Linked DNA regions of Homo sapiens. The protein of the gene in region 3 purifies or fractionates together with the protein of the main gene of each other region. This does not show direct contact. Each region holds a gene or a part of one and is shown on either strand. Other genes may lie near its edges. The genes, in order: ATXN7, RASGRP1 and RAB3D.

Evidence for each region.
Region 1: the proteins of RAB3D (region 3) and ATXN7 purify together in Homo sapiens (affinity purification with mass spectrometry; one large-scale study listed by BioGRID and IntAct). This does not show direct contact.
Region 2: the proteins of RAB3D (region 3) and RASGRP1 purify together in Homo sapiens (affinity purification with mass spectrometry; one large-scale study listed by BioGRID and IntAct). This does not show direct contact.

The regions. Positions count from the first base shown.
Region 1 is NC_000003.12:63,982,240-63,985,891, reverse strand, and holds part of ATXN7 (ataxin-7), read right to left. Parts: coding exon 3,447-3,652; intron 2,954-3,446; coding exon 2,871-2,953; intron 1-2,870. UniProt on the Homo sapiens protein: Acts as a component of the SAGA (aka STAGA) transcription coactivator-HAT complex. Mediates the interaction of SAGA complex with the CRX and is involved in CRX-dependent gene activation.
Region 2 is NC_000015.10:38,509,165-38,512,816, forward strand, and holds part of RASGRP1 (RAS guanyl-releasing protein 1), read right to left. Parts: coding exon 3,619-3,652; intron 2,557-3,618; coding exon 2,440-2,556; intron 1,935-2,439; exon of another isoform or gene 930-1,934; intron 1-929. UniProt on the Homo sapiens protein: Functions as a calcium- and diacylglycerol (DAG)-regulated nucleotide exchange factor specifically activating Ras through the exchange of bound GDP for GTP. Activates the Erk/MAP kinase cascade.
Region 3 is NC_000019.10:11,333,016-11,336,667, forward strand, and holds part of RAB3D (ras-related protein Rab-3D), read right to left. Parts: intron 2,769-3,652; coding exon 2,650-2,768; intron 2,557-2,649; coding exon 2,432-2,556; intron 1-2,431. UniProt on the Homo sapiens protein: The small GTPases Rab are key regulators of intracellular membrane trafficking, from the formation of transport vesicles to their fusion with membranes.

The DNA.
Region 1 (3,652 bases), on a different chromosome or scaffold from region 3:
AGGGAACACGTGGTTATTGTGCTAAACCCTTTATTCCCTGCGACCTAGAAAGAGTGAGGCCTGTGCTCACAGATGTACGTAATAAAAAGTTCTACAATGAGTGAATGGACAAAGGCTACAGGAGTCACAAATCTCTCCGCGTGGAAGGCACAGAGGACTTTCGACGGGATATTAGACAGATGAAGAAGTGAGGAGGGGCAGTGAGGATGGGAGACAGACAACAGAGAATGAGTAATGGGAATGAACAGCAGCAAATCCCCTGACGGTGAAGAGAACAGATAACGTTCTAAGTCTAAGACAGAAGAGACCTGGCAGCAACTTGGGAAACACTCAGGGTAGGGACATGCAGGCATGTTTAGCCCTACCAAGCTTAATAGATTCAGACCAACGTGAAGGCAAGGAAAAGGAAAAGAACTGACAAAACAATGAAAAAAAGTCAAGTCATCCTGTAAAAGGGCAGGCCTGGTGGATGCTGCATTTTCTGCCAGTTCTATGCTGATCTCATGACAAGCTGGGTCTCAAGACTTATTAATGCAATGACAGGCTTAGCCCAATGCCACGGAGAGTAATGACACCCTTAAAGAAGGACGACAAGGGGAGCATATATCATTTGAAAAGGAAGATGTGAGAAAAATGCAGACCCATTCAAAGTCACTCCACCTAGCAATAAAGGCACAGGAAGAATGCCAGTCAAGCTCCTTGAAGATTTTGAGTTGAAAAAAAACTTTTGGCAACCTCACTTCTGGGTAGTTATCCAAAATAACTGAAATCAGAATCTCAAAGAGCTATTAGAACTCCTATGTTCACTGAAGTATTATTTATAATAGACAAGATGTAGAAACAATATAAATGTCTGTCAACAGGTGACTGGATGAAGACAACATAGTATATACATACACTGGAATACTATTCAGCCCTTAAAAAGAAGGAAATTCTGCAATATGCTACAACAAGTATGAGGTAAGCTTGAAGACATTATACTAAGATAAATAACCCAGTCACATAATGACTAAACACCGCATGATTCCACTTATATGAGATCTATAATCAAACTCACAGAATCAACAACTAGAGTGGTGGCTGCCAGCGGCTGAAGGGAGAGCGAAATAAGGAGTTACTAATCAATGAGCATAAAGTTTCAGTTATAGCAAGATGAACAAGTTCTAGACATCTGCTGTATAATATTCTTTCACAGTCAACAATACTGTCTTGCACACTTAAAGGTGTGGTTCCCTGCCACGCTTTGTAAATGACTGAAAAAGAACATCTTGGGTTTGAAAAAAGCAAACCTCATTGCCCACAGGTACTGTATTACTGAGAAATCCATGTTACTGAGAGTCAGGTAGGCAGGAAGAGCGCAGAAGGAGAATGGCAAGTTGTGATCATGATGTGGACAGGGCTGAGGCATGCTTTCACACATTCTCTTAGGGACAGCTGAAACTGACATAATTCTACAGAACTCAGGTGGCTATCTTCATACACCACCACCACTACACCACTGTGTGTCCAATTAGTACCCTATACAAAAAAAAAGCAGTTTGTTTTATGAGAGTTTTTAACCTAGAAATCCAAGGATGGGCTTGGGGTGGGGGTGTCCATTAATCCAAGATAGAAAAATTCAGAATGTGTATGTGTATGCACTATTTTATTCTCGGAAGATGGACCGTGGTTTTTTTTTTTTAAAAATGAGATATTTAAAGGTACTCTTGACCAACCCTTTTCCCCAAAAAGGTTCTGAACCACTGTTGTAAGACAAAATCTATATACTAAAATTAAATTAGAAGCTTAAAGTAAGAACCACTTAAAAATTTCCCACTCCAGAAGACTGTAACATGCCTCCACTGGCTGGGGCATGGGACAGGGCCTGAAGTCCTTTATTCAAATACACTTTAATAAAATTTAAAGTAAAACACTAACAATTTTATTAATTTTTAGAAGAAAATGCTAACTTTTATCATTTTTACTTCCTCCCTCTAAGGTTTTAAAATTACATACTTCAAAGCAGTGACTCTGAATGCTTCTTGAACCTATCTGGGGGGTAGCTGGGGACACCCTCCAGAGAAATGCACATCAACATACAAGCTCATTTATGTAGAGGTGTTCACTGATGACCTGAAGCCACCCCACATCAATAACCCACACTTTTCAGCAAATATACCTTATTAGCATACTGGCATTTTAAAAGAAGGAAGACCCCAGAGCAAAAAGGAAGACCATTACATTTTCTTAGCTTGTATATAAATTATTAATATATTTTATCTAGTTTTTTTTTTCTCTTAAAAGAGATGGGTCTCGTAATGTTCTCCAGGCTGGACTCAAACTCCTAGGCTCAAGCAATCCTTCTGCCTCAGCCTCCCCACTAGCTGGGACTTACAGGCATGCCTGGCTTGCAGTATTTTTTTTTTAAACTAGAAAACAGGGATATTTCAAAATCACAGATTTTTTAAAAAGTGGTTCTTTAAAATTTAAGACCATGGGTGACACATTTTTTAAATGTTCATACACACGCAAGGGAAATTTCTGCACTTGCTTTAAGCCAGTATAATTTAAAGCACAGTCAAGGGTAGCCTATATGGAAATATTAAAAGTTTTTAAAAATAACAGACTGGGAGAGAACACTATTCCTGTGGATACAACACTGCTCATTAGAAACAAAACCTCTGTCAAGATTATAATTTATAACAACGCACTTCACATTTTGTCAATCTGAGGCTTTCTTCAACAGAACCAAGTTATTCCTTCACCTACACAATTCACAACAATCCACAGAGCATCTTCTCTGGGTTAGAGAGACTGTGGGAGTAGTGTGGTACATCCCAGTCACCCATGTTTATCAGGATGGTCGACTTGACTTTCAGGAGTCCACCTACCTTGCATGTCAAAGACCGGGTGCAGGGCTTCTTGGTGTCGAGATCAATAACCCCACAGTGGATGTCAGGATCAAACTCTCTTTCTGTCAAAAGAACACAGGCATTACATGTGGCCTGACAAACTCTCCTCCATGTATTTTTTAAGCAAGAAAATAGAAGAAATCAACAGTTAGATAAATTATAGCTGGAATAAAAGCCACATTATCAATAAAATAAAAAATATACAACGTGTGAGTGCTGCAACAAAGCAGCAACATCACTAAGACAGGGGGTGACTACTGCCATCAGATGGTAGAAAAGATATTGTTTAAGTCTGTATTACTTCCTTCAGAAATACACCACTAGAAAGCTACTTTTACATGACACACACACACACACACACACACACACACACACACTCATGCTCTTTAAAACCCAAGAGTGAAAAGAACAAACATATTAACTAAGGAACTTCCTCCTAAAGCTGAAGTTGACCAGTTTTAAAAATAGGAATTCTAGATTGCAGTTGATTTGCTCCCCACGAATGCCCATTTAATATATAGAGAAGCATTATGAAGAAAGAAAATTTGAAGTTACCTGATAATCTCTTATTTAAAAATTTCCTATTATTGGAATTGTCTTCAGGTTTCTTTTCCAGAGTGGGCGGTGCAGGAAGCCCTTTGCCATTCAGAATCTGTCCAGGTGAAGGCAAGGTTGGCTTTGGTATTGAGGGGCAGTTAAGGCCAGGCTTGACTAAGGAACTCACAGTAGCAGGACAGGTTGGCCCCACCGCAGATTTCAGT
Region 2 (3,652 bases), on a different chromosome or scaffold from region 3:
TTTTTCCTTCCTTATTAAGTAAAGAACTTAGAGGAAACACTTTAGGGCTGCTCTTTGGCATATCCAAATTGCCAACATCATTACTCTTGCACTGTGAGGCCATTATTAAACAAAGTGAGAGTTACTTGAACACAAGCACTGCAATACCATGACAGTCAATCTGATGACCAAGACGGCTACTTAGTGACTGATATGAAGGAGTCCCAGAAAGAATGGAATGGGATGGCTTAAGATTTCATCATGCTACTCAGCACAGCATGCATTTTAAAACTTATGAATTGGCCAGGCGTGGTGGTTCATGCCTGTAATCCCAGCACTTTGGGAGACCGAGGTGGACGGATCACCTGAGGTCCAAAGTTCAAGACCAGCCTGGCTAACATGGTGAAACCCCGTCTCTACTAAAAATACAAAATTAACCCGGCGTGGTGGCACACGCCTGTAGTCCCAGCTACTTGGGAGCCTGAGGCAGGAGGATTACTTGAACCTGGGAGGCGGAGATTCCAGTGAGCTGAGACTGAGCCACTGCACTCCAGCCTGGGTGACAGAGTGAGACTGTCTCAATCAATAAATAAATAATAAAATTTATGAATTATTTCTGGGATTTTCCATTAAATTTTTTTTGGACTGCAGTTGACCTCAGATAACTGAAACTACAGGAGACAAAACCTCAGATAAGGGGGACTACTGTAACCCTTTTAGACACTGTGCCCAAACTTAATAAAATTGTGGCCTACGAAGTACCATTTCTCCACAATGAAGAACTTGGAGTTCTTGGAGTCAGACCCCTTCAAATCACTGGGAGATGGCAAGAGAGCTTCTTCTTCATAAACCTCTACCAATGGTGCAGGTGAGCCCTAGGCATGGAAGGGGCTCACAAGACAAGAGTGTAACAGCAAAAATGATAAAGATATTTTTATTCCCCTCCGAAGGTGAAATCAACAACTTGGGGACTTTTGCTTCAACCCTGGACTTACTAATTCACTATGCAGACCACCCTGAGGGTCAAGTAGCTACCGACAGGAAGCACTGCTGTGGGGGGACCCCAAGCTGAAGAGGAGCAAGCTCTCTCTTATAAGCTAAATGACATGAAGGCTTCTTAATCTCTGTGACTATTTCTCTCTGTCACCTCTGAGATGTGGGCAATCTTTTCAACTGTTCCACCTGGTTTCAGCAGAACCGTTAAGGAATGAAGAGGTGACTAAAGATGATGCCCTTTTGATCAGACCACTGGGAAGTGGGGGGCCTCCCCAGAGGCCCAGCATTGTGATAACAGAGATAATAAAAGACTCCCCAAAAGGGAGCTGAACACCTGGGAAAAACAGATGGGGTAATGAGCTTAGGTATCTCTCCCTAAAAAGAGAGTTCCTCTCCATGCTAGTTTGGAAGGATTGGGGCTTGAGTATAGTAAGGTCCTCTTACATGAAAGTGCTCAAAGAGCAGTCATTATCTAACCCATGCCATACATTTATATCCTCGGTATATTACAGTGGTTTATATTTATAACAACAGCTCCAGCTGGACTCAGTGGCTCATGCCTGTAATTCCAATACTTTAGGAGGCCGAGATGGGAGGATCGCTTGAGGCCAAGAGTTGGAGACCAGTCTGGACAACATAGGGAGACCCTTATCTCTACAAAAATTTTAAAAAATAGCTGGGCATAATGGTGTGCACCCATGGTCCTAGCTACTTGGTAGGCTGAGGTGGGAGGATTGCTTGAGCCCAGGAGTTTGAGACTGCAGTGAGCTATGATCGTGCCAGCCTGTGCTCCAGCCTTGATGACAGAGGAAGACCCTGTTTCTATAAAAAAGAGAAACAAGCAAAACAGCCCTATGTCATAAAAGATAAAAGTATATTCTGTAAAATCTAATAATGTAGGAAAATGTACAGGACATTTAAGAAAAATATTCATTAATAAAACATTATGTATTACAAAATGGTATCTGAAGAACTCATATCCAATTATCTGGTAAAATTCAACTATCCGGAATGTCATTCTTCAAGGGTTCTGGATAGCTAAGTTTTTAATATATCACTATATAACTACACTCAATGTGCAAACTGACCTATGGTCAACCGAACCACAATTCCTTTTGAGAACACATTTTAGAGCAAGGAGCTGGAGCGAGGGAATCAGTGTCAAAGATGGTAACTGAATATTCCATGGCCTATGAACATGGGAAGAGGCACACATTGTTTCAACTGGTCCAGCAGGAATGTTTGCAGTGACACTGTCTGAGGCCAGACAAAATCACAGTTACTCTAAAAAATGTGACTTCTCCATCCTATGGATTTCCTTAAGGTTTGCCTCCCTGCCACTTAGCCTGGTTGACAAGGGATGGTGTGGTTGGAAATGCTCTCTGGGCTGCCCACCAAGGAGAAAATGTTGGCACACATCTTGAGAATGCTGCTAAGGGCCCCAGAGAAGACAGTAGCACTGACCTTATTGATTTCATGTGGGACATGCGAACTTGTCTCCTTGAGCCTCGAGATTGAGCTGTGACACAGCCCACCTATCACAGCCATCAGTGTATTGAAGTTCTGTAGTTGGTGGAGCTTCTGTGACACAGAAGACAGATGACAGCAGAGTCACTGTACATGTCAGTTATATGGGGAGCTTAGAGGCTGCCTCTTGTCTCTGTGCCGTGAGTCTCCCTTACGCTGGTTAAAGACTAGTTACGAGGCATTGCAATTTCCTGTCCATGTCTCCCCTTCTGCTTTATTCAGACTGGTGGATTCCACATCTGGGAGGCATTACATCTCTCTCCTTTTGTTGTTGCTGATCTGTGGACCACCTTCTAGATCAGTGCTTTCTTAGAATCACCTCAAGTATTTGTTTAACACAATGGTTTCTGGACCTAACCCAGACATTCTGATTGCCTGGATCTGGGGTTAGGCTTGGAGATCTGTACTTTTAATATACCTTTAGTTAATATCAGAGCAGGTGATCCAAAGTCAGAGCTGTTGACTTTGAGAAACACTGGTCTAGACCATCCAGAGTTGGAGAAAGATATTATTAAGTGTAATCTTTTATTTATTCCAAATTTACCAGACTTTTATTTTTGAGGGTAAGGACTTTGTCTTATTTTCCCATGCAATGCCAGTGCCTATATAGGACAGTAACTGGGACAGAGAAGCTAGAATCTCTGGGGAACTTCAAATATGGGTTCATAGTACTTGTTTTCCTCTTATAAAATGCCCCTCAAACATTAAATGCAGCCATTCAGCACTGCATGGGCTTAAAGACCTAAGACAATCCAGGATGGTCCAGCTCCAGTAAATCTTAGAATTGCCCTTTCCTTTGCCATGTGGGCCAGACTCGGGAAAATAATGTAGGCTGGTAAGCATCTTTTGAAAAATGTTAAAGGTCTAAACAGATCTAAAACTGGATCCTGACCCCTGATATGGCCTGTATGGCCCCCTCCCCTCCACACTGTCCTTGTATGGAAGAAGAGACAAGTCACCATATCTAGATCTGGTTGAAGGCACACAAACCTCTCCACCCCCTCGCCATGGTTCAGGAGGGAAAAAACAGCTCTAATTAATAGACTAAGCTGGAGGAAAAGGGGATAGAAAGTTTACCTTATAGCCCAAGCCAAATGTCTTAAACCAGTTATTCACCTGAGCCACCTGGATGAACTTGATGAAGACTTCT
Region 3 (3,652 bases):
AAATGGAATAGTACACAGCCATGCAAAAGAATGAGCCAGCTCTGGGGCTGATGGAGAAATATTTCTTTTTTTTTTTTTTTTTGAGAAAGAGTCCTGCTCTTCTACCCAGGCTGGAGTGTAGTGGCGTGATCTTGGCTCACTGCAAGTTCCGCCTCCCGGGTTCACACCATTCTCTTGCCTCAGCCTCCCGAGAAGCTGGGACTACCGGCGCCCACCACCACGCCTGGCTAATTTTTTTGTATTTTTAGTAGAGATGGAGTTTCACAGTGTTAGCCAGGATGTTCTTGATCTCCTGACCTCATGATCCGCCCTCTTCGGCCTCCCAAAGTGCTGGGATTACAAGCGTGAGCCACTGCGCCCGGCAGAGAAATATTTCTAGGATATATTATTTAGTAGAAAAGTTCAAAGTGCAGGAAAGGGTATATACAGTAGGGAACATCTGTGTAAAACAAAAAAGTAGCCAATGTGTTGTCAATGCCTGTGGGTGCTCAGCATATTTCTGGAAAGAGATACAAGAATCAGAGAAGCTGGGAGACCAGAACTGCAGGTGGGGAGTGGGTTATTGCCTTAGTCTCTTCCTGTGCCTTCTGAATTTTGCACATAGGGTGCTGGCTTGGATGGGGCTTATGGGAAAGCTGGGGTTAAAAACTGATTGCAAGCATCAGTTTCTTTCTTTCCTTTTTTTTTTTTTCTTTTGAGACAGAGTCTCCCCCCATTGCCCAGGCTGGAGTGCAGTGGCGTGATATCGGCTCACTGCAGCCTCCACCTCTCAGGTTCAAGTGATTCTTCTGCCTCAGCCTCCCAAGTAGCTGGGATTACAGGCGTCTGTCACCATGCCCGGCTAATTTTTGTGCATTTTTAGTAGAGACGGGGTTTTGCCATGTTGGCCAGGCTGGTCTAGAACTCCTGGCCTCAGGTGATCTGCCTGTCTCAGCCTCCCAAAGTGCTGGGATTTCAGGCATGAGCCACCACGCCCGGCCACAAATAAAGTTTTATTGGCAAACAGTCACACCCATTCATTTATGCATTGTCTGTGGCTGCTGTCATGCAGAGTTGGGTAGTTGCCATAGAGACTGTATGGCCAAAAATATTTACTATCTGGCCCTTTAAGAAAAGGTTTGCTGACTCCTGGACTAAAGAAAGCAGTCGTATCCACTATTTTGCTAGAACAAAACAGCCAGGCACGGTGGCTCACGCCTGTAATCCCAACACTTCGGGAGGCTGAGGCAGGTGGATCACCTGTCAGGGGTTCAAGACCAGCCTGGCCAACATGGCAAAACCCCATCTCTACTGAAAATACAAAAATGAGTCAGGCATGCTGCGCACACCTGTAATCCTGGATACTCAGGAGGCTGAGGAAGGAGAATCACTTGAATGCAGGAGGTAGAGGTTGCAGTGAGCCAAGATCGCACCACTGCACTCTAGCCTGGGCAACAGAGGGAGACTCCATCTCAAACAAAAACAAAAACAAACCATAAAGAACATCCCCTTGGGCTGGTGTGGTGGCTCATGCCTGCAATCCTAGCACTTTGGGAGGCTGAGGAGGGAGGATCACTTAAGGTCAGGAGTTCGAGGCCAGCCTGGGAAACATAGCGAGACCCTATCTCCACGCAAAATTAAAAAAAAAGGCCAGGCATGGTGCCTCACGCTTGTAATCCCAGCACTTTGGGAGGCCAAGGCGGGCAGATCACGAGGTCAGGAGATGGAGACCATCCTGGCTAACATGGTGAAACCCCATCTTTACTAAAAATATAAAAAATTAGCTGGGCATGTGGCACGCGCCAGTAGTACCAGCTACTTGGGAGGCTGAAGCAGGAGAATTGCTTGAACCTGGGAGGTGGAGGCTGCAGTGAGCCAATACGGCACCACTGCACTCCAGTCTGGGTGACAGAGTGAGACTCCAACTCAAAAAAATAAAATAAACCTGGGAAGCGGAGCTTGCAGTGAGCCGAGATCGCGCCACTGCACTTCAGCCTGGGCGACAGAGCGAGACTCCGTCTCAAAAAAATAAAAAATAAAAAAATAAAGAACATCCCCATCCTTTTCCATGGCTGCATAGTATTCCACCATGTGAATATACTTTATGTCCACTTGGTTCTCCAACTGTGAGACACCTGGGGGGGATCTGTAGGTTTCACTCCTACTAATACTACTACTACACTCCACACACCATATCCCACATGGGTGAGGATATCTCTAGGATCAATTTCCAGAAATGGTTTTGCTGGGTTCCCAGGGGATAGGCAGTGGGGCAGTGGGAGTTCCTGCGCGTGGATCCCCTGCAATTAGACGGGACATGTGGCATACACATGGGTATCTTCCTGGGCAGATCCTCAAAGGATCAGTGACTGGGTTGGACCCTGAATCAGAGGATGGGGATGAGGGTTTGGTTCTGGGAGACCAGGGCCTGTGGCCCAGGCTGGGCACTAACCAAGGTCGTCGGCGAGCCTCCGGCCATCCTCAGCAGGCACAACACGTTCGTCCTCCAGGTCACACTTGTTCCCCACCAGGATGACCTGGGCGTTGTCCCAGGAGTAGGTCTTGATTTGCGTGGCCCTGCAGAGTTACCAGTGGTGAGCCATGAGCCGGGGGGGTTAGGGGTCAGAGGAGAGGGCAAAGATCAGGGGTCCATGATCAGCAAGCACTCACCAGTCCTGCACAGCGGCAAAGGATTCCTGATTGGCGATGTCATACATGAGCAGGAAGCCCATGGCTCCCCGGTAGTAGGCCGTGGTGATGGTGCGGTAGCGCTCCTGGCCCGCTGTGTCCTGGACAAATGGCAGTGGCAGTTGGCTGGGAACTACCTGTTTCCCAGTCCACCCCTGTCTTAGAGGGGCACTGCCCTGTACTCATAGCCCCAGCCTTACGGGGGAGACACAGACTTGCTTGTACAACCTCTGGTCTGATGGAGAATACACAGATCCTGCCCTCACAACCCCAGTCTGATGGGGGAGGCATGGATTCATTACCAAGGGATCTCCCCAGTCTGATGAGGGAGAGACTTGGGCTTGCCCTTGAGGGGTTCCAAGTCTCAGGGGTCAGTGGCCTCTCACAGACTTATGAGCCCCTTTGACCTTGTCTCTAAGAACCAACTGGGCCAGATGGTACCATCCTGACAGGACACCTTGGTACTCTTGCTACCACGATGATTGTTACCAGCGGCTAAGTTGGGAGAGGGAGCTAGGTGTGACTCTGCAGACCAGGTCGGTCCAATGGGGGTCCCAGGGTCCCCTCTAAGATGGTACCCAAAACTCTTCCCTGTTGGTCACCAGCACCTGGGACCTTTCTTTTTTCTTTCTTTCTTTTTTTAATAGATGGGGTCTTGCCCTGTCACCCATGATGGAATGCAGCGGTGCAATCATAGCTCACTGCAGCCTCGAACTCCTGGGCTCAAGCAATCCTCTTGCCTCAGCCTCCTGAATAGCTGAGACTACAGGCGGGAGCTACCATGCTGGGCTAATGTTTAAAGTTTTTTTTAGAGATGAGATCTCGCTATGTTGTCCAGGCTGGTCTGGAACCGCTGGGCTCAAGTGATGCTCCACCTCAGCCTCCCAAAGTGTTGGGATTACAGGCATAAGCCACCACGCTAGTGTCACAAGTACTTCAAACATGTCTTAGGTTAGTATCATCTCCGCAATCAGACCCCCAGGAA